Linked DNA regions of Homo sapiens: regions 2, 3, 4, 5, 6 and 7 are each reported to be linked to region 1. The links are microRNA targets in miRTarBase. Many come from high-throughput screens and were not tested one by one. Region 1 holds a microRNA gene; each other region holds the end of a gene's coding sequence.
What was found. Region 1 holds the annotated microRNA hsa-miR-302a-3p (UAAGUGCUUCCAUGUUUUGGUGA, at 1,179-1,201, shown strand). A microRNA usually pairs through its seed, bases 2 to 8, with sites in the 3' UTR of a target mRNA and lowers its output. Matches are read on the target gene's strand: a 7mer-m8 pairs with bases 2 to 8, a 7mer-A1 pairs with bases 2 to 7 and ends in A, and an 8mer does both.

Region 2: miRTarBase lists ADAT2 as a target of hsa-miR-302a-3p. Seed matches in the 3' UTR shown: 7mer-m8 at 3,370-3,376.
Region 3: the mRNA of HABP4 is a reported target of hsa-miR-302a-3p. Seed matches in the 3' UTR shown: 7mer-A1 at 2,844-2,850 and 8mer at 2,438-2,445.
Region 4: the mRNA of MELK is a reported target of hsa-miR-302a-3p. The part of its 3' UTR that is shown has no 7-base or 8-base seed match.
Region 5: the mRNA of MAPKAPK5 is a reported target of hsa-miR-302a-3p. The part of its 3' UTR that is shown has no 7-base or 8-base seed match.
Region 6: miRTarBase lists KCNA7 as a target of hsa-miR-302a-3p. Seed matches in the 3' UTR shown: 7mer-m8 at 2,208-2,214.
Region 7: miRTarBase lists MYH9 as a target of hsa-miR-302a-3p. The part of its 3' UTR that is shown has no 7-base or 8-base seed match.

Annotation. Positions count from the first base shown.
Region 1 is chr4:112,645,387-112,649,386 of GRCh38, reverse strand. It overlaps MIR302A (microRNA 302a), which reads left to right and starts at 1,136; the gene lies at 1,136-1,204. It overlaps LARP7 (La ribonucleoprotein 7, transcriptional regulator), which reads right to left. Exons shown (of 13, transcript NM_016648.4): 3 at 2,936-3,036; 4 at 2,716-2,799; 5 at 2,432-2,596; 6 at 2,260-2,353; 7 at 1,838-2,188; 8 at 1,553-1,697. MIR302CHG (miR-302/367 cluster host gene) reads left to right here. Exons shown (of 3, transcript NR_146092.1): 2 at 788-874; 3 at 2,419-2,667. MIR367 (microRNA 367) reads left to right here and starts at 1,446; the gene lies at 1,446-1,513. It also overlaps MIR302D, MIR302C and MIR302B. RefSeq lists an enhancer at 1-516.
Region 2 is chr6:143,424,931-143,429,008 of GRCh38, forward strand. ADAT2 (adenosine deaminase tRNA specific 2) reads right to left here. Exons shown (of 6, transcript NM_182503.3): 5 at 3,682-3,754; 6 at 1-3,576. The coding sequence ends at 3,533. Among named protein-coding and RNA genes, the nearest start is that of ADAT2, 24 kb to the right of the region's middle. RefSeq lists an enhancer at 2,539-2,608.
Region 3 is chr9:96,489,270-96,493,347 of GRCh38, reverse strand. It overlaps HABP4 (hyaluronan binding protein 4), which reads right to left. Exons shown (of 8, transcript NM_014282.4): 8 at 2,012-3,366. The coding sequence ends at 3,310. It also overlaps a transcript of CDC14B not described here. Among named protein-coding and RNA genes, the nearest start is that of HABP4, 41 kb to the right of the region's middle.
Region 4 is chr9:36,676,531-36,680,608 of GRCh38, reverse strand. It overlaps MELK (maternal embryonic leucine zipper kinase), which reads right to left. Exons shown (of 18, transcript NM_014791.4): 18 at 2,927-3,449. The coding sequence ends at 3,272. Among named protein-coding and RNA genes, the nearest start is that of MELK, 110 kb to the right of the region's middle.
Region 5 is chr12:111,892,651-111,896,728 of GRCh38, reverse strand. It overlaps MAPKAPK5 (MAPK activated protein kinase 5), which reads right to left. Exons shown (of 14, transcript NM_003668.4): 14 at 1-3,762. The coding sequence ends at 3,668. Among named protein-coding and RNA genes, the nearest start is that of MAPKAPK5-AS1, 52 kb to the right of the region's middle.
Region 6 is chr19:49,066,297-49,070,374 of GRCh38, reverse strand. KCNA7 (potassium voltage-gated channel subfamily A member 7) reads left to right here. Exons shown (of 2, transcript NM_031886.3): 2 at 1-2,978. The coding sequence ends at 312. Among named protein-coding and RNA genes, the nearest start is that of NTF4, 3.5 kb to the right of the region's middle.
Region 7 is chr22:36,278,964-36,283,041 of GRCh38, reverse strand. MYH9 (myosin heavy chain 9) reads left to right here. Exons shown (of 41, transcript NM_002473.6): 41 at 257-1,762. The coding sequence ends at 374. Among named protein-coding and RNA genes, the nearest start is that of MIR6819, 5.9 kb to the left of the region's middle.

The DNA of each region.
Region 1 (4,000 bases):
TCTAAAGACATTTAGCAAAATAAGCTAAGGGAGTTCCTCTTCCCCCAATATTCAGATTAAATGTTTTAAGATTGCCAATTAAATTTTTGAGTGTCTGAAGTATTTTAATTTATAAAAGTAAAATTTTAGCATTAATTCCTTAACTAGTAACATTTACTAAATCAGTCATCTCTGTGGGAAAAGGGCGAGATTAAAGATTTGTTAAACTGCTTCCAATTTGAGAGATAACATTCCTTAGTATTTACTTGAATCAAAAAGAATTTCTAAGTAGAACAAAACACCCCGTGGAAGCAATCTATTTATTTACATACATTTAACATGTAGATGCTTCTTCAAACAGAGTTCCTCCAGATAGAAACACAATGCCTTTCTCGGCTCAGTGGGAGCACTCATTGTTACCCTAATCTATGCCATCAAACAAGCAGATAGGAGATTTTCTTTTTCTTTTTCTTTTTTTTTTTTAAGAGGAAGATATCTTGTGGTAATGGTTTTAGCTGTTAACATTGACATCTGTATACTTCAAAAAAAAAAAAAAGGATCCAGACCCACCCAGGATCATACATTCCCTGAGAGCTGATACATTAAAATAACAAAAGGCCCTTGTAATGATTCTCTGAGATAAAAAGGCAAAAGGAATTCAAGAGTTAAGAATAGTATAAATAGAAGTGGCTGAAGTCCCTGCCTTTTACCCTTCTGGAGGAGAACACGAATCTTTGGGAACTAGTTCAGGAAGGTAAAAAAATTTTTTTCTTCTAAAGTTATGCCATTTTGTTTTCTTTCTCCTCAGCTCTAAATACTCTGAAGTCCAAAGAAGTTGTATGTTGGGTGGGCTCCCTTCAACTTTAACATGGAAGTGCTTTCTGTGACTTTAAAAGTAAGTGCTTCCATGTTTTAGTAGGAGTGAATCCAATTTACTTCTCCAAAATAGAACACGCTAACCTCATTTGAAGGGATCCCCTTTGCTTTAACATGGGGGTACCTGCTGTGTGAAACAAAAGTAAGTGCTTCCATGTTTCAGTGGAGGTGTCTCCAAGCCAGCACACCTTTTGTTACAAAATTTTTTTGTTATTGTGTTTTAAGGTTACTAAGCTTGTTACAGGTTAAAGGATTCTAACTTTTTCCAAGACTGGGCTCCCCACCACTTAAACGTGGATGTACTTGCTTTGAAACTAAAGAAGTAAGTGCTTCCATGTTTTGGTGATGGTAAGTCTTCCTTTTACATTTTTATTATTTTTTTAGAAAATAACTTTATTGTATTGACCGCAGCTCATATATTTAAGCTTTATTTTGTATTTTTACATCTGTTAAGGGGCCCCCTCTACTTTAACATGGAGGCACTTGCTGTGACATGACAAAAATAAGTGCTTCCATGTTTGAGTGTGGTGGTTCCTACCTAATCAGCAATTGCGTTAACGCCCACACTGTGTGCAGTTCTTGGCTACAGGCCATTACTGTTGCTAATATGCAACTCTGTTGAATATAAATTGGAATTGCACTTTAGCAATGGTGATGGATTGTTAAGCCAATGACAGAATTTAAACCACAGACTTACTTTGATAGCACTCTTAATGGTATAACTTCTTCTCCCATTTTATGTCTCTCTTTATGTTTTTTCTTATGTTTCCTTTTTGTTTTCAAGAGAGAGCTATCTTTTAGATCTCCAGTATCCTTTTCCTCTTCAGTAGAGATTTCTATATCTTGAAATAAATAAAAAAGCTCTCCGTTAAGACATGGGGCTGTGAAATGGGTGAAACAGAAGCCAATTAAAACCTAATTAATTAAAAACTAATTAATTAAAATTAATTAGTTTTATCTAATTAAAACCTTGTAGTTTTACCTCTATTTTCCTTGGAAGCTTCTGATGCTTCCTTAATGATGTCTTTCTGAATAATTTTCTTTACTTTTGATCGGGGAGCTAGGGATTCTGCATCTTCAGAGCTGCTTCTCTTCCTCTTCCCTGTTCTGACTTCAGGTAAGCTAGATGCTTCAACTCTGTCCCGTTTTTTCTTTTTCTTTGAGCACTGCTTTTGGGGTTCAGTGGACTCAATGTCAGAGCCCTCAGATGTGGGTCTGGATCTTTTCATTTTACTGATGCTGGTGTTGCTTGTGTCCATGTTTTCTTCTTTGGCTTGGATATTGTCTTCCTTTTTCATTCGGCCTTTCTTCTTCTTTTTCTTTTTCTTCTCTTCTGTAAAAGTGCCATCATTATTAGTTCATCTTACTTCAACTACACCTATTTAAATATTGAAAAATACTCACCCACAACTCTTAAGGCTGGAATGGGCTTATTTTTCACTGTTTTAGGAAATATGCCAGGTTTTCTTGGTGCTTCTTCTGGTGGGTTGTTAAGAAACTGAAATGATTGCAAAAGTTACTATTTTAATACTTGTTTTCTTTTCTTTCTTTTTTTTTTTTTAGGATCTGGACTTACCTCAATTGCTTTTGCTGCTTGTTCTTTTGTTTCAAATTCCACAAACGCAAATCCCTTTGGATCTCCAGTAGACTTATAATGTGGTATACTTATATAAACAACATTGCCACATTTCCCAAATACTCTTTCAATCCAGCTGTGATTAACATTTTTGGGAAGTAACTCCTATTATAAATTAAAAGCAATATTAGAGTTTTTCACAATCAGAATGTCAATAAATTTTTAACTTAATTATATTGTTTCTGTGCCAGTTTCTGACTGGGGACCCGGGTTCTTAAGCTTACCACATACACTGTGCGTTCATCCTCATCCTTTGGTCTTTCCCCCAGAGGTTTTTTCCTCCGGATTCTGGTGCCTTCCAAATCAAGCTTTAAAATAGTATATTACATTAATAAAACTAATATTATTTATAATTGTAAGCTATAATCATATAATAATCATTACGTTAACATTCTTTATAATTATAAACTATAAATATAAACAGTAGTTATTCTTGATTCTTACCTCTACAACAGCTGAACTTCTCAATGCTCTGGCAATTAACTTCCCATCAGTAGTCAATTTTTTCATTTTGTTAAAAGACACAAGTAGTGATATATCAACATCTAAAGAAAATGAAAAAGTTAATATGTTAGTGTATCAGCAGGATTAATTCAATTTGGTACAATTTAACCTGCCCCTCAGGCCCTCAGGCTCGGTGGCTCATGCCTGTAATCCTAGTACTTTGGGAGGCCAAGGCGGGTGGATGGGGGAGTTCAAGACCAGCCTGGCCAACATAGTGAAACCCCATCTCTACTAAAAATACAAAGAATTAGCTGGGTGTAGTGGTGCACGCCTGTAATCCCAGCTACTCGAGAGTGAGGTAGGAGAATCGCTTGAACCCAGGAGGCAGAGGTTGCAGTGAGCTGAGATCACTCCAGCCTGGGAGAAAGAGACTCAAACAAAACAAACAAAAAAAAACTGTATGAGGGTCTAAATGGCATTGCATATTTGGCGACCTAAAATGACACATTTTAGTGTATGTAACTGCAGATTAAGATTTGAACACAAATTATTAGCAATACCCAGACATTCAAAGAGGACATCTGGATCCCATCCTATTAGAAACAAGCACAAGGTTGGCTATTTGAAATTTAGCAACTGGGGATGGTGGCTCAATGCTTCTTATCTCAGCAATTCAGGGGTGAAGGTAAATCTCTTGAGCTCAGGAGCTCAAGACCAGCCTGGGCAACATGGTGGGACCCCATATCTCTTAAAAATGCCAGAAAAAAAAGCCGGCCTGGTGATGCTTGCCTGTGTTCTCAGCTACTGGGGAGGCTGATGGAGGATCGCTTGGGTGGGGCTGAGGGGGTGGAGGTGGGGGCAGAAGTTGGAGTGAGCAGACATGGAGCCAGTGCATTCCTGCCTAGGGAAAAAAGATAGACCTTGCCTCAAAAAAATGAAACAAAAAATAACATTGAGCTAGGTGAAATGCCTTCTTGTATGAACTAAAGTATAGCACTCTCGAGTTACACATGATGAATGGTTATTGAAGCAATTAAATCCCAAAATACTTAAAAGCTTTGATTT
Region 2 (4,078 bases), not on the chromosome of region 1:
AACTATATAGTGAAGGAATAGGACAACACCTTGACCAGATGACCAAAATTGACATCACCTTGGTGTGACGGCCTTTGTGTGCCTCCAGATGTGATATCCTGTGAGGAACTTAACATCAACCAGCACCTGAATCTAATCACAAGAAAATATCAAATAAATTTAAAACAAGGACCATTCTATTATTTAAAAAAAGAAGAAGAAAACAGAAAGGAGGCAAAATGACTGTATTATTTAAAAATGTCAATGTCATAAAAGACAAAGAAAGCCAGTGAAAATGTTCTAGACTAAAAGAAGCTAAAGGCAGACCGGTGCAGTGGCTCACGTCTATAATCCCAGTGCTTTGGGAGGCCAAGGAAGGAGGATTGCTTCAGCCTAGGAGTTCAAGACCAGCCTGGGCAACATAGTGAGACCTTGTCTCTACAAAAAAAAAAAAAAAAAAAAATTAGGTGTGGTGACATGAGTCTGTGGTCCCAGCTACTCAGGAGGCTGAGGAGGAAGGATTGCTTGAGCCAGGTTGAGGCTGCAGTGAGCTGTGATCATGCCACTGGACGACAGAGTGAGACCTATCTCAAAAAAAAAAAAAAAAAAGAAAAAGCTGGATTCAAGACAAGTAAATGTAATGCTGGACCCTAGACTGGACCTGGGATTATAGGGTAGTGGGAGAACTTCTTTACAGGACATTATTGGGTCAGCTGACAAAACTGTAATACAAATGATAGATTCAAGTATATCAATGTTAAATTTACTTAAGTCAATAACTATACTGAAGCATTTCGGGGTAAAGGGCCATGGTGTGTTGTGTTTGTGTGTGTGTGTGTGTGTGTGTGTGTGTGTGTGTGTGTGTGTGTATTTTATATATATATACTTTTCCCAGTAAAAAGTTTAAAGAAAAATTAAGAGTTCTTGCCTACACTGAAGCTCTTGGCCATCTATTTTCTCTCCATGATACTCCAAATACAACACAGGAAGAGATGGTTGTGCCAAGTAACAAGAAAGCACAAAGATATTTTAACATGATCTTTTATCAGTGATTGAAGCCTACCAAAGCATTACATACCACCCATTCTCCACAGTTTGTTGCAAAGACCAGCAAACACTGGATAACTCTAGCAGCTTCTAAATGTAATCATTTCCCCCTAATTTCTCTCAACAGGGCAGTGATTCTAAAACCTTTTTGTATCTCACCACTTTCAGAACTATTTTGTACACAAAACAAGTCTTTCAGCTGGTGTCTTGGACAGGCACTATCAGTATCAATCAATGGAATTCAAGCTGTTGAACTAGGACATCTTAATATTTTAACCCGTGTCTAAGTAGCTGGGGAATGTGGTACTCAGGAAGCTGAATGACCTCAACATATATCCATAATTCCTCACTGTCACTTGGAAATTGCTAGCAGAATTCCATAGAGCTAATGTCTATGACACCCTCAGTGGTCCTGCCCTCCAATCTGCAGTATGCCATATTAATGATTTTCTCCCAAAGCGATGGAGGGAACTGTGCCCCAGTCCAAACATTTAGGACAGATTTTCGATAGGTTAATTACTGAAGAGGGAACCAAAAAGATGGTAAACCACAATTAAATTGTTCAGCTATGCTTCAGAATCAGGAAACACTACTTATCCATCATTCTCCAAAACAGCAAAGACGGAACATATGTATATTGTTAAGTCTTTTCTATCCTTCCCTGTCTATCACTTTATTATTTCCTTCATTCTTTTAGTAGCGACAGTCTCTGGGCTAGAATGCTCATATACTATTTTCGGCTTTGGCTTTTTGTCCTAGATAGTCTTCTTATTCACTTTTCCCCAAATTTCAATCAGTAATTTCATTTAGCAAATGTTTACCAAGAACCTACTGGACATAAGATGCTCAGCCAGACTTACTGGGTGGTACTCTAGAGAGGCAAAACTCCAGGTTGGTTGTCCTACAAATAATCCCCAAGAAAATGATATGAACACAATAAATGCAATGAAATCTGCTTGCAGGAAAGCATAAGAAGCCAGAAATGAATTACGACCAACTGCAAAAAGGAACAAACTAGTAGAAGCACTAAAATTCAATGAGAAGATAATTTTTAAAGTGGATGAAATTGAAGGTGCATGTAACATTATCACAGATTTAAAATCATGCATATTCTCCATAAAACTTTTCAAATGCAGTTAAACACACACACACACACACACACACACACACACACACACAAAACCAAGCAATTATAAGTCCTCTGAAGCATGTAACTGTGATTAGCTGCTACTCTCAGCAATATAAAAATACTTTCACCACAATTACATTCCAGCCTGTAATGTAATTCAAAACAAACAAGTCAGAGACATCGCTCAAATGACAGAACCAACAAATACAGATGCTTTGCATCAAGGAAATGAATCTACTGAAGAAATGCAACTGAGGAGCAGCAGCCCCTCCAGGGCCTGGAGCTGAGCTTCTGGTGGAACGGCGAGGCCCCCTTCTGGGCAGAGGCACACAGTGCGCCCAGAGGGCTGTGCAAAGCTGCCCTGTAGTCATGGAGGTGAACTGGGGACTTCCTGCTGTGGATACCCTTTCCAGTGTTGTGTTCAAAATTTTACATTTTAGATTTTAAATTTATTATATGGATTATAAAAGAAATAACCATTTGTTTCAGATTAAATTGATCATTCTATTTTTCAGTCAGCATTCTCACCACCAAATGGCACCTATCCCCTTTACCCTGTGTTCCTTTTGCTTTTTGCCATAACTCTTATTGTCCTCCAATAAACTGTGTAATCTATCATATCCATCTCCCCTTGCTAGAATATAAGCTCCATGAGGGTGGGATAATTTGGTTTTTTGCTCAATAACAATTGTCCCATTTATGTCTTTATCTTTTAAGACTATTCATCTTCAAATAAGACATAAATAAGGTTTTATTATAGCAATATGCTATAATTTTTAAGTGACAACTCAAGCACTTGTTTTAAAAGTATGCATTTTTTCTAAATGCTTTATAAAAGCAAAGTCTTTTCTAAGGACCATATAATTATGGTCTCTATATACACAACTTATATACAATTTAGAGAGAAGTCACAGCCCCCAGTGCCCTGGAAGAACATCGTAGCTGCAAAAAATGAAGAATCTGATTCTGAAATGCCAGTCCTGGAGAAGGTGTTCTCAGGGTGGCAAACTGCAGTCCAAACACACTCCAGGTCCCTGGGTCTGGCCACACATTCTCTAAGAAGTCAGCACTTGCCTGGACTGGGCACTTGTGGCTAGAAGGGTATGCACTACTTGCTAATTTCTAAAACCTCAAACCTTAATTTTCCCCCATCTTAAAATGGGAATCAGCTTCTGGAAAAGCTAATAACTGTTTACAATTGTCAGACTTCTAAAAAGTGCTAATTTGTTCCCTTAACAGAGCAAATGATGAGAGACACCATTTTCCTGCAGATTAAAAACAATATATAAACATATGATTCAACGATGTCAACAGCTTTCAGTCTATGAATCTTGTCCAGGTCACTTTGGGTCACTTGGTTCTTTCATCAGAACATGTTCAAGATTTCTGACATTCCTTTTTCCGAACTTTCGATTTTGGTGCTGTGAAAAGAATAGAAAAGAAAAAGAAAATGAAGAGGTAAGCTCATAGCAGATTCTCTTTGTATGGATTTAAGGGAAGGACATTATCCACAACAGAAAACTGACCATTTGGATTTTCTTGTTTGTAGAAGGTCTTTAACATTTCCACTGCTTCCTCAGCCCGATATCCAGGGATACACTGATGGAATGAGAAAGTTGAGAATAAACATAGGCCTATGAAAATGTGTGCTGTATCCCATAAAAACAACATATATATACATGATTATGTAAACAGATTTCAGATGTTAATAAACTTTGGGGATATTAGTAACATGGGTAAGGAGGTACACTTCCAAAAGATGTTTGATATATCATCTTTTTCATTACTCCCAATCAACTGTTATTAGGCATCACTCCCAATCAACTGTTATTCATCCATTAACTATTATAGAAGTTACCAGCTTTGTGATCTTGGGTTAGGCACTTAAACTCTCCATGCCTTATTTATACAATGCTGGCAATA
Region 3 (4,078 bases), not on the chromosome of region 1:
GAAGGCTGTTCACATGGGCCACGGTCCTTGCAGAAGGCTGAGAGGAGACAGCAGCAGCCAAAGAAAATGAGCAAATCTGTCTTCTGTGTCTACAGCGGAGGCCGCCATGTGGAGAGAGCAGGCAGGCCCACTGCTGCTGAGAACAGGGCAGGCACGGGCAGCTCCTGTTCTGCCTTTCCCAGCTTCGGAGACGCAGGCTCAGCTGCTCCGAAGCACCTGCCAGCACCGCACAGTACAGTTTCAGAGGACAGCAGTCTCCTTCCCGTGAAGCTCCCATGTGCTGGAATGGCATGGACTTGCTGATCAACAGAAGGAAATGGTCTGAAGTCTGACCAGCACAAGGAAGGAGGCTGGCTGGCTCAGAGGGGCCCACCTTGCGTGGAATGAAAACGCCAAAGGCTCATGAGCAACATTAGGCTAGAGGGGTCTTGTTCAAAGCATCCAACTCTGACTTCGGAGGCATTCCCAGCCGGCAGCAGTGTGTCCAGCCTGCCTCTTCCCAGGCTGGTCTGACATGCAGCTTAGGCTTTCATCCCAAGTTAGGTACTGACCCCTCCCTCTTGGGCAGCACCTCCCTTTTTAAAAAAATTTTTTTTTCTTCCAAAGACAGAGTCTTGCTCTTGTTGTCCAGGCTGGAGTGCAGTGGCGCGATCTAGGCTCACTGCAACCTCCTTCTCCCAGGTTCAAGCGACTCTCCTGCCTCAGCCTCCTGAGTAGCTGGGATTATAGGCGTCTGCCACCACGCCCGGCTAATTTCTGTATTTTTAGTAGAGACAGGGTTTCACCATGTTGGCCAGGCTGGTCTCGAACTCCTGACCTCAAGTGATCTGCCTGCCTTGGCCTCCCAAAGTGCTGGGATTACAGGTGTCAGCCACCGCACCCAGCCAAGCACCCCTATCTCTAGAGGATCTGGCCCCCCAGCCCAGTTACTGCAGGGCAGCTTTCCCCACCTGGTGACAGGCTGTGCGCAGCAGCCCCAGGACCTCACCCTGAGCTGAGTCTTCAGGAGCCGCCCTGGTGGCACAACTCAGACACCCCTGAGGCCTAGCAGTCAACTCCTGATTCAGACATGATCCAGTCCAGCCTGGGCTTGGCTATAACCAGCTCAAACTTGCTTGACCTCCACTTTTCAGGAGACTTGGGGACGACAGCCCTCATCGGCGTCTTTCATGGGGTTAATCTGCTTGAGTCTAAGTCGCCAGCCAGAAACGTGGTGCCCAGGGTGCCCTGCCTCAGGACATGTCCACACCCACGTCACAAGCACCTGAGGAGTCCGGCCGGGGCACTGTGGTCCAAAAGGTCCTGCCGCCTCCGCATCTGACTGTCCCAACGGCATGCTGGTGACACCCCCCTGCCCTTCGCTTCTGTCCTCCCTGGCTTCTCTGGGGCACTTGGGGCTATGTACAACCTGGCACGATCCAGAAAGGGTGCAAACAAAATGCCTACATCCAGGCACACGACCAAGTCAGCGAGAGCTAGCCCTGGTAAGCAAACATAGCCCATTACAGGTTCAGAACGTGCACCGGGTTCCCCAAAACTGTCTTCAACCACATGACTCAACAGCTCTATGGGATAGGAACTGTCAGTGTTTTTGCAACTGCAACATTAAACCAAGTGCTGTGGGCTTTTCAAGTATTATTCACAACACTAAAGGAAAGTTTCTTCAAAGGGCTCTCTGGCTAATCTTCAAAGCCGCAGTTAGGCAAAATGACAGTGTGACAGCTTCAAAGCCACTGACTCATGACACAGCCCTGATGTTGTACCGGCTAGGTTCAGATTTCAGAAATCAGGGCACTTGCATCCATTGCCTTTTCCAGGAAAGGGAAGAAAACACTCAGTTGATAAACCTTAGTACTCAGATAATAAATAAGAGACCAAAAGTAGGCTATCACCCAAAGCAAACATCCTTAACTGACCCTAACGTGTATGGATTCAACTTTGATTATTCAACAAAATCATGACCGACTGCTGTGGCCTGGAGTAACCAAAGGACTGTTTTCTCTACACAAAGTCAGGAGCGAATACCAACCTTTATTTGCACTTGGGTTCCAGTTCAAAGCCACCTTAGACAGTGTGGCAAAGTGGGAAAAAGCACAGATCCTGGGACCAAGGTTCAGATTCCATCTCAAGCGAGCATATGAACTGTGTGACAACAGGCAGACAGTACCTCTGTGTCTATGAGAAAGCGGGGAGAGCAACACCCCAGCTTCTAGCAGCTCTACAGCTGCCTGGACCTGCAGGCCCTCCTAGGCCCACTTCCTCCCCAGCACAGTGTGTGTTCCCGGGCGTGTGTGGCTCTGGGTCCAGCTCTGTTCAGGGTGGGACTCCAGGTGAATTACTGAACCTCTGAGGTGTACCCCCAACCCCAAACTTTCACCAAAAGCAATAAAGAGGAACTCTAGAACTGGAGCCAGGACTAAGTGAGAAAAACTGCTTATAAGTGCTTAATAAATACTAGTTATTTACAACTTTTGCTCAAGCCGAGGGCAGAGGCCTTTGTACGCAGCTGCCGAACTCTGACTCTAGTTCTGCGGAAGAAAAGGATGCGGTATTTGCTTTTGCCATGATCCCTTTCCATTTGATTGGCAGGTTAAATAACATGGTTTTTGAAGTCACATACTTAATATTCTTCCTAAAAACCACCCAAACACTAGATGTGTGTGTGCACACACACAGAAACCACGAGGTAGTTTAAATCACCATTAAAAATCAACGCTTTCTCTGATTCTGTGTCACAGAGTGGTGGCCAGTGGCTACACAATAGCGATTTTTAAATGATTGGTTAAGTGAAAACCAGAACTCAAAATATTCCAGGAGAGAAGATAACATTTACAAGTAAACAGTAAGTGCAATTGTATTTTAATTTCTTGGTCTCCGAAAACTCAGCTGTGACTGCTTTCCATTAACAGTTCCAGCTCTATGTGTTTCCTCTAACGCTAAAGGCACAGCCCCCGGGAATCTACTGCTTCCTAAGAGTCTCCATGGAGTCTATTTTACAACCTCCTTTCCCTCCATGCTTCCGCGGAGGAGTCTATACTATCTCTATATACACATTTTAAACATTATTCTTCATTTGAAATTCCTTCAATAAAAACACAGTCACCATTCTTCATCTTCTTGGGAAATGGCCTGCTCTCGAGCCTCTGGAGAAGCCCCTCTAACAGCTCAGCCCAAAAAAGTGCAACAAATTTACATGACACGGGAAAAGCAACATCTATTGTTCTTAGAGTCTGACTCCCTTGGCCCAGCTGGAAAAGTCTCCCCACAGGTGTGCAGTGCAGCTCCGCGGTGCTGGGAAACAGGGCTCTTTCAAGACAGCGCAGGGAAATCTTCCGGGTCATCTGGGTTGGGGGCAACATCTTGCATCTAAAGAAAAAAAGAAATACTTTGAAATCCACTGCCCCTTCATCCATTCCCGATATCCCAGTGGGATAACAAGGGCCTGGCACCAACGCTGAGGGGCCTGCATTAGAGGCAGGACCCACAGTGGGAAGGGGAGAGTCACAGGTCACTGCTAACCCAGGAAAGTACAGCTCCCCCTCCCACACAGGCCTCCAGCCTCCTCGAAAAAGGAGCTGCCTCCCTTCCTACGTCCTGCAAGCTCTTACTGGGGGTTCTGCATGGGCACGTCCTTCATCGAGTAAATAGAATGGTTACTGCGTGCCGGGCACTGGAGGAGCACAGACAGTGCCTATCCTCGGGGAGCTCACGGTGCTGGAGAAACTGACCATCGAATCAGGAGCTTCACTAACACGTCCTGGGAAGGAGGGGCCACAGGAGGGCCATCCAGTGCAATTTGGTGGCACAGTGGACACCAAGGTCAGGCAAGGTTTTGTGGGAAGAGAAGGTTCTCCCTGGGATGAACCTCAATGGATGAGCAAAGGGAACAAGGACTTGGATTGGGAAACAGTGTGACCTGATGGGGGCGGGGGCGGGCCCTAAGGGCGGTTCTGAGGTGGAGGGATGCACAGGTTGTGGAGGTGGGGACAGATGCCAGTGAAGAGGTGGGTGGCACTGGATCTCAGAGTGGTTTCCCAACACACTCCCTGGAGTGCTGCAGGGGACAGAGCTCCGCTAT
Region 4 (4,078 bases), not on the chromosome of region 1:
TAAATTATATCTCAATAAACCTGATCCCCCAAAAGGATTTTAAAGTAAATGTGCTAAAGAACTCTAATTTAAAGATTACAATTGTCAGACTAGATGTTTATAAGAGAAAATAGAATATGTTGTCACTTACAGTAAGGCTAAGCAGTGCTTCATATATGTTTATATGTGATGGATCCCAAAGTCATTAGGGAAACGTAAATTAAAAGCAAATGAGATAGATACTACTAACACACTACAAGTGCTTCCATCATGTGTACTTGTTTCTTGCTGTGGCTAGGGTCAAAAACTTTTGAGAATCATTGTTTCAAACCACGCCACTTCCCATAGGGATAGAAGATTAATCATACCTCTATATTTTATAAAAATAGGTAAATTGGACTTCAGAAAATTGAAAACTTTTGTTCTTCAAAATACACTATCAAGAAAGTTAAAAAGCCCACATAATGGAAAAAACATTTGCATATCATATATTATATATATTATCATATAGCTGGTAACAGACATACCTAGAATATATAAAGAACTCTTACAATTCAACAATAAAAACATAACCCAATTTAAAATGTGCAAAGGATCTGAACAGACATTTCTCCAAGAAAGATATACAAATGGCCAAAAGCATATTAAAAACTGCTCTACATCATTAATCATCACGGAAAAGACAATCAAAACCACAATGCCATACCACTTTACACCCACTAGGATGACTAAAATTAAAAAAACAGATAACAAGTGTTTGACAGAATGTGGAAAAGTTAGAACCCTCGTACATCACTGGCAGGATCATAAAATGGTGCAGTGGCTTTGGAAAAACAGTTTGATAGTTCCTCAAAATGTTAAATGACCCAGCAATTCTGCTCCTAGGTATATATACAAGAGAAATGAAAACATGTCCACACAAAACTTGTATATAAGCATTCACAGCAGCATTCATAATAGCCAAGTGGAAACAATCCAAACGTCTATCAAGTGATAAATAAAATGTCACATATCCATACAGTGGAATATTATTCAGTTATCAAATGAAGTACTGATATATGCTACATTATAAATCTTGAAAATGTTATGCTACGTAAAAATAACTAAACCCCAAAGGTCTTACATTGCATGATTCCATTTATATGACATACACCAGTCAAATTCATAGAAACAGAAAGTAGGTAAGTGGTGGCCAGGGGCTGGGGGGTGGGGTATGGGGAGTGACCGGTAACAGGTATGGGGCTTCTTTTTGACATGATAAAAATGTTCTAAAATTACATTGTGGTGATGGTTGCACAACTATGAATATACTTTTATTTTATTTATTTTTTTGAGATGGAGTTTCACTCTGTCACCCAGGCTGGAGTGCAGTGGCACAATCTCGGCTCACTGCAACTTCCACCTCTCAGATTCAAGTGATTCTCCTGTCTCTGCCTCCCAAGTAGGTGGGATTACAGCCACATGCCACCATACCTAGCTACTTTTTTGTGTTCTTAGTAGAGACGGGGTTTCACCATGTTGGCCAGGCTGGTCTCAAACTCCTGACCTCAGGTGATCCACCCACCTCGGCCTCTCAAAGTGCTGAGATTACAGGGATAAGCCATGGCGCCCGACCTGAATACACTCTTAAACCCCCACTGAATTGTACACACTTTAAAGGGGTAAATCTTATGATATATGAATTACATCGTAACAAAGCTGTTGTTAAAATATTAAAAACCCTTTGACAGCTCTCCTTTGCCAAAACACTTATTTTAATGGGGCATTCAAGTACTTTCATGACTTATTTCCATCTAAACTTTCAATCCTCATCTACTGTCATTTCCCGCTTCCACTACCTTCTGCTTCTACCCCAAACACATAATGACATTTTATAATTCCCTGTCTTTGCACATATTGTTCTCTCAAAAATGTCATGTCCCAAGCTGGGGTGGTGGCTCATGCCTGTAATCCCAGCACTCTGGAGGGCTGAAGTGGGAGGACTGCTTGAGATCAAGAGTTTTGAGATCAGCCTGGGCAGCATAGTGAGACCCTGTCTGTACAAAAAGTAAAAAAATTTGCTGGGTGTGGTGGCGCACGCTTGTAGTACCAGCTACTTGGGAGGCTGAACCGGGAAGACTGCTTGAGCCCAGGAGGTCGAGGCTGCAGTGAGCTGAGATCACGCTACTGCACTCCAGCCTGGGTGACAGAGTGAGACTGCGTCTCAAAAAAAAAAGAAAGAAAGAAAGAAAAAAAGTCATACTCCTCACTCTTCTCTTTCTGCTGAACTCCTATATATCCTTCAATGACAAATGCTGTTTCTTCCAAGAATTCATTTCTAATTCCATGCAAAGTGGGTGGGTCCCGCTATGCTACAAATACAGTTAGTAAATCCTTGGGTTTACTAGACAGTAGCAGCTTCAGCCTGAGGACCTAATGCTTGTAAGCACTTAGTAAACATTTATTGAATAAATGAATGACAAAACATTCCCTTCACTACTGACCAGAAGGAGTGCTATTTTTTCTCCAACTAGTTTAATTGGTGAAATCCATACCAATATAACTTGAGTTCTAGCCTTTGGAGACCAATAAAATGAAATAAAAATACAAATTTGGGGCCAACATTGAGACTTAGGGAAATTACCATAAAGTAACATTTCAGGGGGGGTTCATAGTTCGGATACTTATCATTTGTTGACCAAACATACTTAAAGTCAATACTCTTTTATTCAACATATTAAATGTGTTGTTTAACTCTGGTAACCACAGCTGTGACAGTTAACGATCTCAATAAATCCTACTTAAATCAGACAGGAAAAAATTATGCAAATGAATTCTTATCTGTTTTTCTGCCCAAGGCATATTTGATAACAGATAAAACATACTCCAAATAGTCTCTACTTAATAGTCAGGAAGCCATTTGAGGTTTTATTTGGATCAAAATCAAATACAAAAAAGAGAAGCCTGCTATATTCACAAATGGTTTTATTTCAGAAAGAAATTACACATTACAAAGAGACATAGTTAAGAGCTTACATTCACATATGGAAGTGAATCTAAGAAAGTCAACAATTATTAATATACAAAACCACATGATTAAAAAAGACAGTAACATAATGACAGATGGGCTTGATTTAGATTCATACACAAAATAATATCTTTTGTTTAAAAACAAAGAGATATTGGTCTTAAGATAGCTCTTTAGAAACAAGTTGGTAGTTCCAATGAACTTTAAAATCAAAGCGATCATAACAGTCTTTATGTAGGCTGTATCACACCCACACTCATCCGGCAGGATGGAAGAATCCATCAATTATACCTTGCAGCTAGATAGGATGTCTTCCACTAATCTTTTGTAAACCCAGGCATCGCCCTTAAGCCGCTGCCTCCTGATACCCACCACATCGGGTTTTTGAAGCTGGCACACTTCTAATTCAAATTGCATTGTCACTTTCCCAAAATCTGACTGTGTTTGACACTTCAGTGTATAACTGTGAAAAACAAGATAAGAAGCTAGTTAGTAGGAGAACCATATTCTGTATAAGAGTTTTCTAAGCCTCTAGGAGGCCAGTGGAGGAAATGAACCATTATTTCATATTAAGCAATGTATTACTGTTTACAGTTTCCAAATGACCTAGCTATGCTTTAGTAATAGAGTATGACTGGTGTTTTCCCAGAAACTGAACTAGGATCCTAAGAATAAGCATGAAAAGGCTTTATTACAAGTCTCCCTTGCTCCAAAGAAAAGCCCCTGTTTCATAGCTATACATGCCATTCATGCTCAAGAAATCTGGCATTCTTTATGCAATCCTTTCAACGTGTAATCCGCAAACATTGGGCATTTCCACAACATTCACAACAAAGGAAAGCGCAAGAAAGATAATATTTCATGTGTGTGAGCCTTGTCAGAAACTTGTCTTTCATATAAATAAAGCTGAAGCCAGTAACCTGTCAGAAAGGCACGTGTGTTTTTGAGGTTTTTCTAATTAGTAATGAGAGATAACCTCTTATGACGATCATCACATCACTTTATGGCAGAAAGAAAAGCAGAAGAAAAAGCCCAAGGAAATGGTATATTCCCATAACTGAAACGTACGGCATTTATAGATAGAACTGCCGC
Region 5 (4,078 bases), not on the chromosome of region 1:
TAAAAGTATCTGATTGACCAGTAATGGCTTTAGTAAGCAGAAGGTTAATAAATCATGTAGGCAAACAGGAGAGCATAACCTGCTGCTTTATAAGAATTATATTTACAGTGTTATGTTTCCACAGGTATAGGTGTTTGTTAGGCCAAAAAATATGAGAAAGATATCGTTTCACTTCCAGTTATGTGCAAATTTCGAGTAGCAAACCTGACAGTTATGTTAAAGCAGAATTTACTGCTGGACTAGGAATACACAAACAAAACTCCACTTCGAAGACCAAGCCATGCTGAGTCCCTTGGGAGCTACTGTTTTTTTTCAAGGTATGCTGTTGCATTACAACAGCTGGGGCATCCTCCAGAGTGTTCACAAACTTCCAGCTTGGTGCTCATTTGGATGTGTCTGGACACAGCACTTACATTGAGGGCATGAATTCAGCTTGAAGTGACTGAAACACGGGCAACTGATGCTCAGAGTCAAAGGGAGTATCACTTTGGATACCTTTTCCATCGCACCTAAAATTCAGCATACACTGAAGGAAAAAATAATCATCCTGAGCCTTTTTAGAAGACACCCAAGTCACAAATTTAAGAAGTTATGGATATAATGGATATGCTAGAATATTCCTCTAAAGAAGAAGAGTAACAAAGATAATTACTGTTTTTTTCTCCCCATGGAATACTGAACCTCTGCCCTAAGATAGGAAAACTACAGTTGTTCTAATATTACACAAACAAGTGCAGTATTCCTAACTGTAAGAAGTGATCTGTAAGATTTGCATTTCACTGAAAAACACAACAACAGGCACTTAATTCAACTCTCAGTCAAGTTTTCTGGTCAGTAAATTTAAAAACATTGGTTTTTCTTCTGTTGCCGGTGAGATTTTGCCATCATGAAAAGTATTCAGGTCGCGCACGGTGGCTCACGCCTGTAATCCCAGCACTTTGGGAGGCCGAGGTGGGCGGATCACGAGGTCAGGAGTTTGAGACCAGCCTGGCCAATATGATGAAACCCCGTCTCTACTAAAAACACAAAAATTAGCTGGGCGTGGTGGTGTGTGCCTGTAGTCCCAGCTACTTGGAAGTCTGAGGCACGAGAATCGCTTGAACCTGGGAGGCAGAGGTTGCAGTGAGCCAAGAGCAAGCCACTGCACTCCAGCCTGGGGGACAGAGCGAGACTCTGTCTTGGTGGCAGCAGGGTGGGGGGTGGGGGGGAGACATATTCTCCTTACAGGAAATCCATTTATAACAGTTATCAGTCACCTAAGATTAGTGAACTTTATCTCAAAAAATATCTTTCAATTAAATTCTCCAAGATAAAAAGGAACCAATGTAGGCTGGGTGCAGTGGCTCACACCTGTAATCCCAGCACTTTTGGAGGCTGAGGTGGGCGGATCACGAGGTCAGGAGATCAAGACCATCCTGGCTAACACGGTGAAACCCTGTCTCTACTAAAAATACAAAAAGAAATTAGCCGGGCGCGGTGGCGGGCACCTGTATAGTCCCAGCTACTCAGGAGGCTGAGGTAGGAGAATGGTGTGAACCTGGGAGGCAGAGCTTGCAGTGAGCCAAGATCGCGCCACTGCACTCCAGCCTGGGCGACAGAGCAAGAATCCATCTCAAAAAAAAAAAAAAAAAAAAAAGGAAGCAATGTAATAAGGTAATTCTTAAGACACTTGTTTTTTATCATCTATTCCCACAGGCAGTCACACACATACAGGGCATACTAACCAAATGTCACCCTGAAGATTCAGGGTGGAGGAATTACTCAGCACAGTGGAGGAGTTAGAAAATAAGTTGCTGGTGAGATCAATTTTGATCGAAGAGAATGAGATGAGAAAAAATTGAATAACAGATGACTATCCTCTCCCTCTGCTCTGCGAGCTGGAGTCTACCTGCCAGCTTTTCTATGTACCAACGTAAGTACCCACCAAAAACTGCTTCACACACACACACACACACACACACATATACACGAAAATTGGTTTGTTATGGAAACCCATACTCACAACAGAAAACTAAAAAAGGACCTAGCCTTATTTTTCCTTCAAACAGCTGCTCTCGGGGCCAAAACCATGCTTCCTGAAAATGAAGGGTAATAAACAAGATAAATGCAGCCCAGAGGATGCCAACACAAAACCCAGACAGACATATTACAGAGAAACAGGGCAGCCTTATAAAAAAAAAAACCAAAACTGGATCATCTTACATGATAATCCAATAGTCCCACTTCAATTAATTATATGTAAATTTCTCGGACAAGTTATTCCAAAAACAGGACCAGAGGAACAGGGAACAGAAATAAGGAGTAATGGAGCTGGTGAAGGCTGCAGGGAAGGGGAAAGGACAAAGCAGGACCTCCTGGAAGGGGAAAGGGAAGCTCCGGTTAAACATATAAAGAATAGGCCAGGCTTGGTGGCTCATGCCTGTAATCCCAGTACTTTGAGAGGCTGAGGTGGATGGTCAGGAGTTCGAGACCAGCCTGGCCAACATGGTGAAACCCTGTCTCTACTAAAAATACAAAAATTAGCCGGGCATGGTGGCGGGTGCCTGTAATCCCAACTACTTGGGAGGCTGAGGCAGGAGAATCACTTGAACCTGGGAGACAGAGGTTGCAGTGAGCCGAGATCGTGCCACTGCACTCCACCCTGGGTGATAAGAGCAAGACTCCATCTCAAAACAAACAAACAAACAAACATATAAAGAAAGAATAAACCCAAGGCCGGGCACAGTGGCTCACGCCTGTAATCCCAGCACTTTGGGAGGCCAAGGCAGACGTATCACCTGAGGTCAGGAGTTCAAGACCAGCCTGGCCAACGTGGTGAAACCCTGTCTCTACTAAAAATACAAAAATTAGCCAGGCGTGGTGGCGGGCACCTGTAATCCCAGCTACTTGGGAGGCTGATGTGGGAGGATCACTGGAACCTGGGAGGCGGAGGTTGCAGTGAGCGGAGATAGTGCCACTGTACTCCAGCCTCCACTACAACAGCAAGACTCTGTCTCAAAAAAAAAAAAAAAAAAAGAATAAACCCAAAAGAAAACCCTGTTAGATTTAAGAAACACACCAGTACCCTTTTAACAGATATGACAAAAAGGAAATGTTCCTGCTTTTCTCTTGGGAATTAGGGGGCAGGAGAAATGAGGGCTCACCTCCCTCTTCTTCCATCATGGAAGTTGGCTCCCCAAGCTCAAGTGTGCCTCCTGTGAGTTCCAGCAAGCAGTCTGCAATGACAGCCACAAAAATGTCTTGGCAGTAGAGCTAATCTAGCAATGGTGTGGAAAATAAACACACAGGGCAATTGAAACCAGAATCCAGAGTCCTTGATTCAACTGTTTACTAATCAGAAAGGTCGGTATAGTCGGTCCTTTTTCTACTGCTGGCAAGTGATTTTTGTATATTTTATTACAAATAAAACAATATTGCTTGACAGCATCATCTGTCATCTTACAAATATACAACTACACAGTCCTAAAGTAATAGTATGTCTCTAGAACTGAGCTTTTCTTAAAAACAAACAATAACTATACTATTATTAAGTCCTGCACCCTAAATCTATACAGCAGCTTTAATCAATGTGGAAATGAAATTATGATTTATTAATTTACATAAAATTACTTTATACATTAAAGAATAATTTTTCAAATTGTTAAAAAAACAAAGTCTGAAGCTGTCATTATTGGGATTCGTGGGACGTGGTTTGCTCTTCTATCACCTGCTTCACAATTTCTGCCAGTTTTAGTCGATCTACTTTATCTGTGAATCCACGACCTGAAAGCAAAAAAAGAACAAGGTCAGTCCTCAAATTCTTTGAGAGGTGGCAGACTCTTGACAGAGACCCAATAAGGTCCACCTTACCAGTATCAAATTCACCCTCACCAGTGGGGGAACCACCCCCACCACTGATCAAAAGCAGTTCAGATCCCCCATTTTTCAGGTAGCAATTGTACAGTTCCACTAACCTGGCAGTAAAAATCCAAAGCTCACAACACACAAGCAAACCACAAAGAGAGACAAGATCTTTGTAATACATACAGCTGACAAAAGACTCATATCCAGAATATATAAAGAATTCCTATACATCTAT
Region 6 (4,078 bases), not on the chromosome of region 1:
GTCACCATGACTACAGTTGGCTATGGAGACATGGCACCCGTCACTGTGGGTGGCAAGATAGTGGGCTCTCTGTGTGCCATTGCGGGCGTGCTGACTATTTCCCTGCCAGTGCCCGTCATTGTCTCCAATTTCAGCTACTTTTATCACCGGGAGACAGAGGGCGAAGAGGCTGGGATGTTCAGCCATGTGGACATGCAGCCTTGTGGCCCACTGGAGGGCAAGGCCAATGGGGGGCTGGTGGACGGGGAGGTACCTGAGCTACCACCTCCACTCTGGGCACCCCCAGGGAAACACCTGGTCACCGAAGTGTGAGGAACAGTTGAGGTCTGCAGGACCTCACACCTCCCTAGAGGGAGGGAGGGAGGGCAGGGTGGAGGGCAAGGCTGGGGGGAGGGGATTGGGTTTAGGAAGAGCTAGGTTAAGTCGTAACGAGTGGGGAAACACTGAGTCTTGTTGGGTCTTGGGTTGTGTGGTTTGGTAGCTCCTGTGGGTACCTCCTGAAGCAGCAGCGAATGGCAATGGGTTGTGTTGTGTTAATGAAGACTCAATTGGTTCATATTACTCTGAGTTGTGCAAAGCTCATGGAGCCTTTTGGGGTAGTGTTGAGATAGGTTTGGTCGTATCATTTTGTGAGTTTCCTAGGTCAGTGTTGGGTTTGGTTGGGTTGTGAGTCTGGGATAGTGTGGTCCAGCTGCATTGTGTAGGATTCTGTGGTTTGGTGGGTCCCCTAGGGCCATGTTGGGTCAAGTTAGATGGTCCCCCATGGCATTGTTGAGATCGAATGTGTGTGGTGTTAAGTTTCGTTGAGACATGGTGGAAATTGTGTAGCTCTGTGATTCTTCCAGGGGCATGTTATTTTAGGTTCTGTGAACTTGCGAGTCATGTAGAAATGTGAAGAGTCCAGTGGTAGAATTTGAGCTTTCTAGGTCACATTGGGTTAAGTTTGTATGACCAAATGAATCTTGTAGGGTTCTGTTGGGCTTAACTGTGTAGAGGTGTGTGGCTGGACATTTTTCGTGGCCACAGCGAGTTGAGTTGTGTTGAATTGTACAACCATATGAGCCTTGTAAGGCCAGTTCAGTTGGGTCATGCCACTGTTTGAGTCTCATAGGGCCATGCTGAATTGAGTTCCATTGAGTTGTGTCACTATGTGAGTCCTACAGGAAGTTGGGTTGAGTTGGACTGTGCGAACGAGTTCCATAGGGCCACATCGGGCTGTTTTGCATTTAGTGGTAGCACCAGGACCCAAAGGAAATAGCAGTGGGGAAGCATCATGTATCTGGGAGCATGCAGTGGCGAGGGCTCTGGGAGGTGTGCCGAGCTGGCTCCCCAGCTCGCTGTAGGGGGCGGGACTGGATTCTGTATCCATGGGATTGGGTGTTCATCCAGAGGCGACTGGGTAAATTAGGAAGAGGTGGATGCTCCTCCTGTTTACCCCACATCCACTTCATTGTGCTGTTCACTCCCATTCTCCCCTACAGTTTTATGCTCAGACATGGAGGTCAGAGCCACAAGGGAAAGGGGAGAGGGGGAGAAAACTGTACTCTGTCCAGACATGATAGAGGGACAGAGCCAAAAGGATAGAGAAAGAGACCCAGAAAAAGGAAGAGGTGGAAACCCAGAGAGACAGAGACCCAAAGGGAGAGAAACAGAGACTCAGGGAGAGGGAGACAATGACCTGGAGGGTGGGGTATGGCAGAGACGCAGAAGAGAGGAACAGAAATCCAGAGTGGGGAGACAGAGACCAAGAGCAGGGGATAGAAGCCGGGCGAAGTGGCCCATGCCTGTAATCTCAGCACTCTGGGAGACCGAGGAAGGGGGATTGATTGAGGCCAGGAGTTCAAGACCAGCCTGGGCAACATGGTGAGACCCCATCTCTACAAAAAATACAAAAATTAGCTGAGTGTGGTGGCACATGCCTGTGATCCCAGCTACTCAGGAAGCTGAGGCAGAAAGATCCCTTGACCCTGAGAGGTAGAGGCTGCATTGAGCCATGATTGCACCACTGCACTCCAGCCTGGGCAACAGAGGGAGCCCCCGTCTCAACAAACAAACAAAAAGAGCCAGTGGGGGAGGGAGGGACAGAGACCCAGAGGGCAGCGTCAGACACCCAGAGTTGGAGACAGAACAACAGAGTCTCAGGGAAAGAGAACCACAATAGAAAAAGGCAGAAAAGGCCGGGCGCGGTGGCTCATGCCTGTAACCCCAGCACTTTGGGAGGCCGAGGTGGGCAAATTACGAGGTCAGGAGATCCAGACCATCCTGGCTAACACGGTGAAACCCCGTCTCTACTAAAAATACAAAAAAATTAGCCGGGTGCGGTGGCGGGCACCTGTAGTCCCAGCTACTCGGGAGGCTGAGGCAGGAGAATGGCATGAACCTGGGAGGCGGAGCTTGCAGTGAGCCGAGATTGCGCCACTGCACTCCAGCCTGGGCAGCAGAGCAACACTCTGTCTCAAAAAAAAAAAGAAAAGAAAAGAAAAAGCCAGAAAAAGTTGGTGCCCCTGAACCCAAGAGTGATGTACAGTCTATTCCATAGAATCACAGAACAATCCTGAACCAGGCCTGTCACCTACCCTCCCTGCAGCTCAGGAAGGCTGTCAGACAGGCTGGGGGCCTCACTCTGTTTTCCAGGGGAGAAACCTGAGTCTCAGAGCAGGGGAGTGGCTTCCCAAGGTCTCACAGCTTGTCCCCAGGGGCCAGGCAGGCTGTCTGTCTGCTTCACATGTCCCCATCAGCCTGCTGGGACACACGGGTCCTCCTGAGTCCCGTAGCCTCATTTCTTACAGACGGGGAAACTGAGGCTCAGAGCAGCAGGTGTTACCCAAGGTCACAAGGCCGAACATTTTCAGAAATCTTTCAGAACTCAAAGGGCATTTAGAGGAAGAAGGCTGAAATCACTAACACATATAGGGCTTCCTTTGGTATCAAAGTACTTTACTTGGGTTAATTTATTAAAACCTATCCAGTGGTTTACAGACTGTTGTTGTTATTTTTAGCCATACCCACCCCTTTTTTGGGTCAAATAAATCTTCCTTAGAGACACCAGTGGGAAGCATGGGAAGGGAACTGGTTGGAGGAGAACACGCCTCCTCTTGGCAACTCAAAATGCAGCTCAGGAATTCAGTGTGGAAACCCCTGGTTTCATCTGAGCACCTTTTCATACAGCTAAAGAGAAGGTACAGATGGTGAGAGGAGTTTGATAATGGTTGAAATTAATAGAAGCTTTAGGTAGTCACTTCTCTCTGAAATGGAGAGAAAGCCAGATTTAGGGACAGAATGGAGACGGACCTCACAGTGACAAGAGACAGGTTGGACTCCAGCACAGAGACCTAAAGAGGAGACACAGACAGGAACTGAGGCCAGGAGGGAGGAGAGGCACAGAGCAAAAGAGAGAAATCCAAGGGCAAGGGGGAAGAGGGCAGATGGCCGGGAGCGGGAACAGAGACCCCCACGAGGGGAAAGAGAAGCAGACAGTGACCCCAAGAGAGAGGATGCAAGAGGCTCAGCAAGAAGGAGACTGGGACCCAGAGAGGGTGGACAGATATCCAGAGAGAAGAAAACTGGGACCTAGAAAGAGGGGGACAGAGACCCAGAGAGAAGGGGGGACAGAGACCTGGGGGGGAACAGAGACCCAGAGAGAGGGGGGACAGAGATCCAGAGACAGAGAGAGAGACAGAGACCCAGAGAGTGAAGGGGACAGAGACCCAGAGAGAGAGGGGGACAGAGACCCAGAGAGAGAGGGACAGAGACCCACAGACAGAAGGGGACAGAGACCCAGAGAGAGAGGGGGACAGAGACCCAGAGAGAGAGGGACAGAGACCCAGAGAGAGAGGGGGACAGAGACTCAGAGAGAGAAGGACAGACCCAGAGTTGGAGGGAGACAGAAATCCAGAGGGAGGGGAACAGAGACCTGGAGATAGGGGGACAGAGACTGTTTCCCAGTCACTCTGTTTGGAAACCTCATCCCTACTATCCCCTCCAGGACTAGAAGCTAGAAGCTAGAAGCTAGAGTCCTCCTGCTATGCGGCAGGATGTATTGGCTGTTTAGGAACAGGGGAAGGGTGGAGAAGCCGGA
Region 7 (4,078 bases), not on the chromosome of region 1:
GAGCTGTTTTTGTGCTACTGTTGTGTGTGAAGATGTCCGACACCTAAACATTTTGCGGGAAGCTTTGCCTGCTTTCCTGAGAGTGGTCCTGTCTAGCTCAGCTGTGGCTCCCAAGACTCCACTTTGCTTCTTTCTGGTGGGAGCAGCCAGGCACCTGGTTTCCCTCTCGAATTCACTTTGAGATGTGTGGGCTGTGCTGTGGCCGCCCCTGGCCTGGCCGGGCCCGCTGACCCTCTGCTTCTACCTCTGCCCCCAGGCGCGGGGACCTGCCGTTTGTCGTGCCCCGCCGAATGGCCCGGAAAGGCGCCGGGGATGGCTCCGACGAAGAGGTAGATGGCAAAGCGGATGGGGCTGAGGCCAAACCTGCCGAATAAGCCTCTTCTCCTGCAGCCTGAGATGGATGGACAGACAGACACCACAGCCTCCCCTTCCCAGACCCCGCAGCACGCCTCTCCCCACCTTCTTGGGACTGCTGTGAACATGCCTCCTCCTGCCCTCCGCCCCGTCCCCCCATCCCGTTTCCCTCCAGGTGTTGTTGAGGGCATTTGGCTTCCTCTGCTGCATCCCCTTCCAGCTCCCTCCCCTGCTCAGAATCTGATACCAAAGAGACAGGGCCCGGGCCCAGGCAGAGAGCGACCAGCAGGCTCCTCAGCCCTCTCTTGCCAAAAAGCACAAGATGTTGAGGCGAGCAGGGCAGGCCCCCGGGGAGGGGCCAGAGTTTTCTATGAATCTATTTTTCTTCAGACTGAGGCCTTTTGGTAGTCGGAGCCCCCGCAGTCGTCAGCCTCCCTGACGTCTGCCACCAGCGCCCCCACTCCTCCTCCTTTCTTTGCTGTTTGCAATCACACGTGGTGACCTCACACACCTCTGCCCCTTGGGCCTCCCACTCCCATGGCTCTGGGCGGTCCAGAAGGAGCAGGCCCTGGGCCTCCACCTCTGTGCAGGGCACAGAAGGCTGGGGTGGGGGGAGGAGTGGATTCCTCCCCACCCTGTCCCAGGCAGCGCCACTGTCCGCTGTCTCCCTCCTGATTCTAAAATGTCTCAAGTGCAATGCCCCCTCCCCTCCTTTACCGAGGACAGCCTGCCTCTGCCACAGCAAGGCTGTCGGGGTCAAGCTGGAAAGGCCAGCAGCCTTCCAGTGGCTTCTCCCAACACTCTTGGGGACCAAATATATTTAATGGTTAAGGGACTTGTCCCAAGTCTGACAGCCAGAGCGTTAGAGGGGCCAGCGGCCCTCCCAGGCGATCTTGTGTCTACTCTAGGACTGGGCCCGAGGGTGGTTTACCTGCACCGTTGACTCAGTATAGTTTAAAAATCTGCCACCTGCACAGGTATTTTTGAAAGCAAAATAAGGTTTTCTTTTTTCCCCTTTCTTGTAATAAATGATAAAATTCCGAGTCTTTCTCACTGCCTTTGTTTAGAAGAGAGTAGCTCGTCCTCACTGGTCTACACTGGTTGCCGAATTTACTTGTATTCCTAACTGTTTTGTATATGCTGCATTGAGACTTACGGCAAGAAGGCATTTTTTTTTTTTAAAGGAAACAAACTCTCAAATCATGAAGTGATATAAAAGCTGCATATGCCTACAAAGCTCTGAATTCAGGTCCCAGTTGCTGTCACAAAGGAGTGAGTGAAACTCCCACCCTACCCCCTTTTTTATATAATAAAAGTGCCTTAGCATGTGTTGCAGCTGTCACCACTACAGTAAGCTGGTTTACAGATGTTTTCCACTGAGCATCACAATAAAGAGAACCATGTGCTACGAGCCGTGTCTGTAGCATTTGTCTGCGGCCAGGGGGCCCTGGACAGGACTAGGCCTGGCTTCTGCAGCCAATGCCGGCTCTGCATCGTCGGGAACCAGATTGGCTGAGGCGTAGGCTGAGCTAGCTGTGGGCGGTTGTGCAGAAAAGCTAAGATGGAAAGGTGGGCTAGGCCAGATCCAAGGAGGCTAAGAGCATCTTAGAAACCTTGGTTCAAGGCCGAGCACGGTGGCTCACGCCTGTAATCCCAGCACTTTGGGAGGCTGAGGCAGGGGGATCACCTGAGGTCAGGAGTTCAAGACCAGCCTGGCCAACATCTCTACTAAAAATACAAAAAAAATTAGCCGGGCGTGGTGGTGTGTGCCTGTAATCCCAGCTACTCAGGAGGCTGAGGCAGGAGAATCGCTTGAACCCGGGAGGCAGAGGTTGCAGTGAGCTAAGATTGTGCCACTGCACTCTAGCCTGGGCGAGAGTGAGACTCTGTCTCAAAATAAATAAATAAAAAAATTTAAAAAAGTGGACACTATCTGGGTCAGCTTAAGAAGGTGACCGATTTTTGGCAAAACAGCTGCATGCACATTCCCTGGCCCTTAGCTTCCTATGTGCCACCCTGCCCTGTCACCCTGGGCAAGTCACTCCCTTCCCGGCTAGCTTCCTTGTCTGTTAAGTAAAGTACACTGGATCTTTGCTGCTGGATGGCGGTCCTTGCACCAGAAGCGTTGGCTCCACGTGAGAACTGCTTAGAAACTATTTCAGACCCCGCCCCCAACCCTCTGAATCCAACTCCACTTTAGCAAGACAAGATCTACAAACGATCTTCATGGCATTTTGTCAGAATCTTTTTTTTTTTTTTTTCCCTGAGATGGAGTCTCACTCTGTCACCCAGGCCGGAATGCAGTGGCTCAATCTCAGCTCACTGCAACCTCCGCCTCCCAGGTTCAAGCTATTCTTCTGTCTCAGCCTCCCGAGTAGCTGGGATTACAGGTGCCCGCCACCATGCCTGACTAATTTTTTTGTATTTTTAGTAGAGACAGGGTTTCACCATGTTGGTCAGGCTGATCTGAAACTCCTGACCTCCAAAGTGTTGGGATTACAGGCGTGAGCCACCACACCTGGATTTTTTTTTTTTTTTTTCTGAGACAGAGTCCCTGTCACCCAGGCTGGAGAGCAGTGGAGCGATCTTGACTCACTGCAACCTGTGCCTCCCAGGTTCAAGTGATTCTCGTGCCTCAGCCTTCTGAGTAGCTGAGACTACAGGCGTGCACTACCACACCTGGCTAATTTTTGTATTTTTAGTTGAGATGGGGTTTTGCCATGTTGGCCAGGGTGGTCTCGAACTCCTGACCTCAGGAGATCCACCTGCCTCGGCTTCCCAAAATGCTGGGATTACAGGCATGAGCCACCACACCTGGCCGTTTCACCCCATTTGAACCTTAGTTTTCTCCTCTGGGAAGCCAAATTAATAAATGTTTTTATCACAGGGCCGTCGTTGAAGCATGTATGACTATGTGTGTGAAAATGTTCTGCAAACCAAAAAGGGCTCAGGTGCTATAATTTTTTTTCTGCAAAGGTTGGGCTTTGAAAGGACTTTAATTAAAGATTTTAACTGTAAGATATTCATAACCTAAAATTGCCTTTTTAACCATTTTTAGGTGAACAGTTTCGTGGAATTACATTCACATTGTTGCACAACCACCATCATCCACAGAACTCTTCTCTTGCAAAACTGACACTTTGTACCCAGTAAACATGAACTGCTCATTCTCCCTCCCCCAGCCCTTGACAACCAACACTCTGCTCCTTATCTTTATAAATTTGACCACCGTAAGAACCTCACATGAACGGAATCATACAGCATGTGTCCTTTTGTGACGGGCTTATTTCACTTAGCAGAATGTCCTTAAGGTTCATCCTTGTTACAGCATGGGTCAGAATTTCCTTCCTCTTTTAAGGCGGAATAATATTCCCTGTGGGTACACGTACCATTTTGCTTATCCGTTCATCTGTCAATGGACACCTGGGTTGCCTCCACCATTTGGCTATGGTGAACGATGCTGCTATGAGCATGACTGTACAAATATCTGGTCAGGTCCCTGTTTTCATGCTGTTGGGTATATTCCCAGAAGTGGAATTGAGGGATCCTATGGTAATTCTATGTTTAAGTTTTCAAAGAACCGTCATATAGTTTTCCACAGCAGCTAAGTGCTATTATTTTATTTATTTATTTATTTAGAGACAGAGTCTCGCTCTGTCACCCAGGCTGGAGTGCAGTGGTGCGCTCTCAGCTCACTGCAACCTCTGCCGCCCGGGTTGAAATG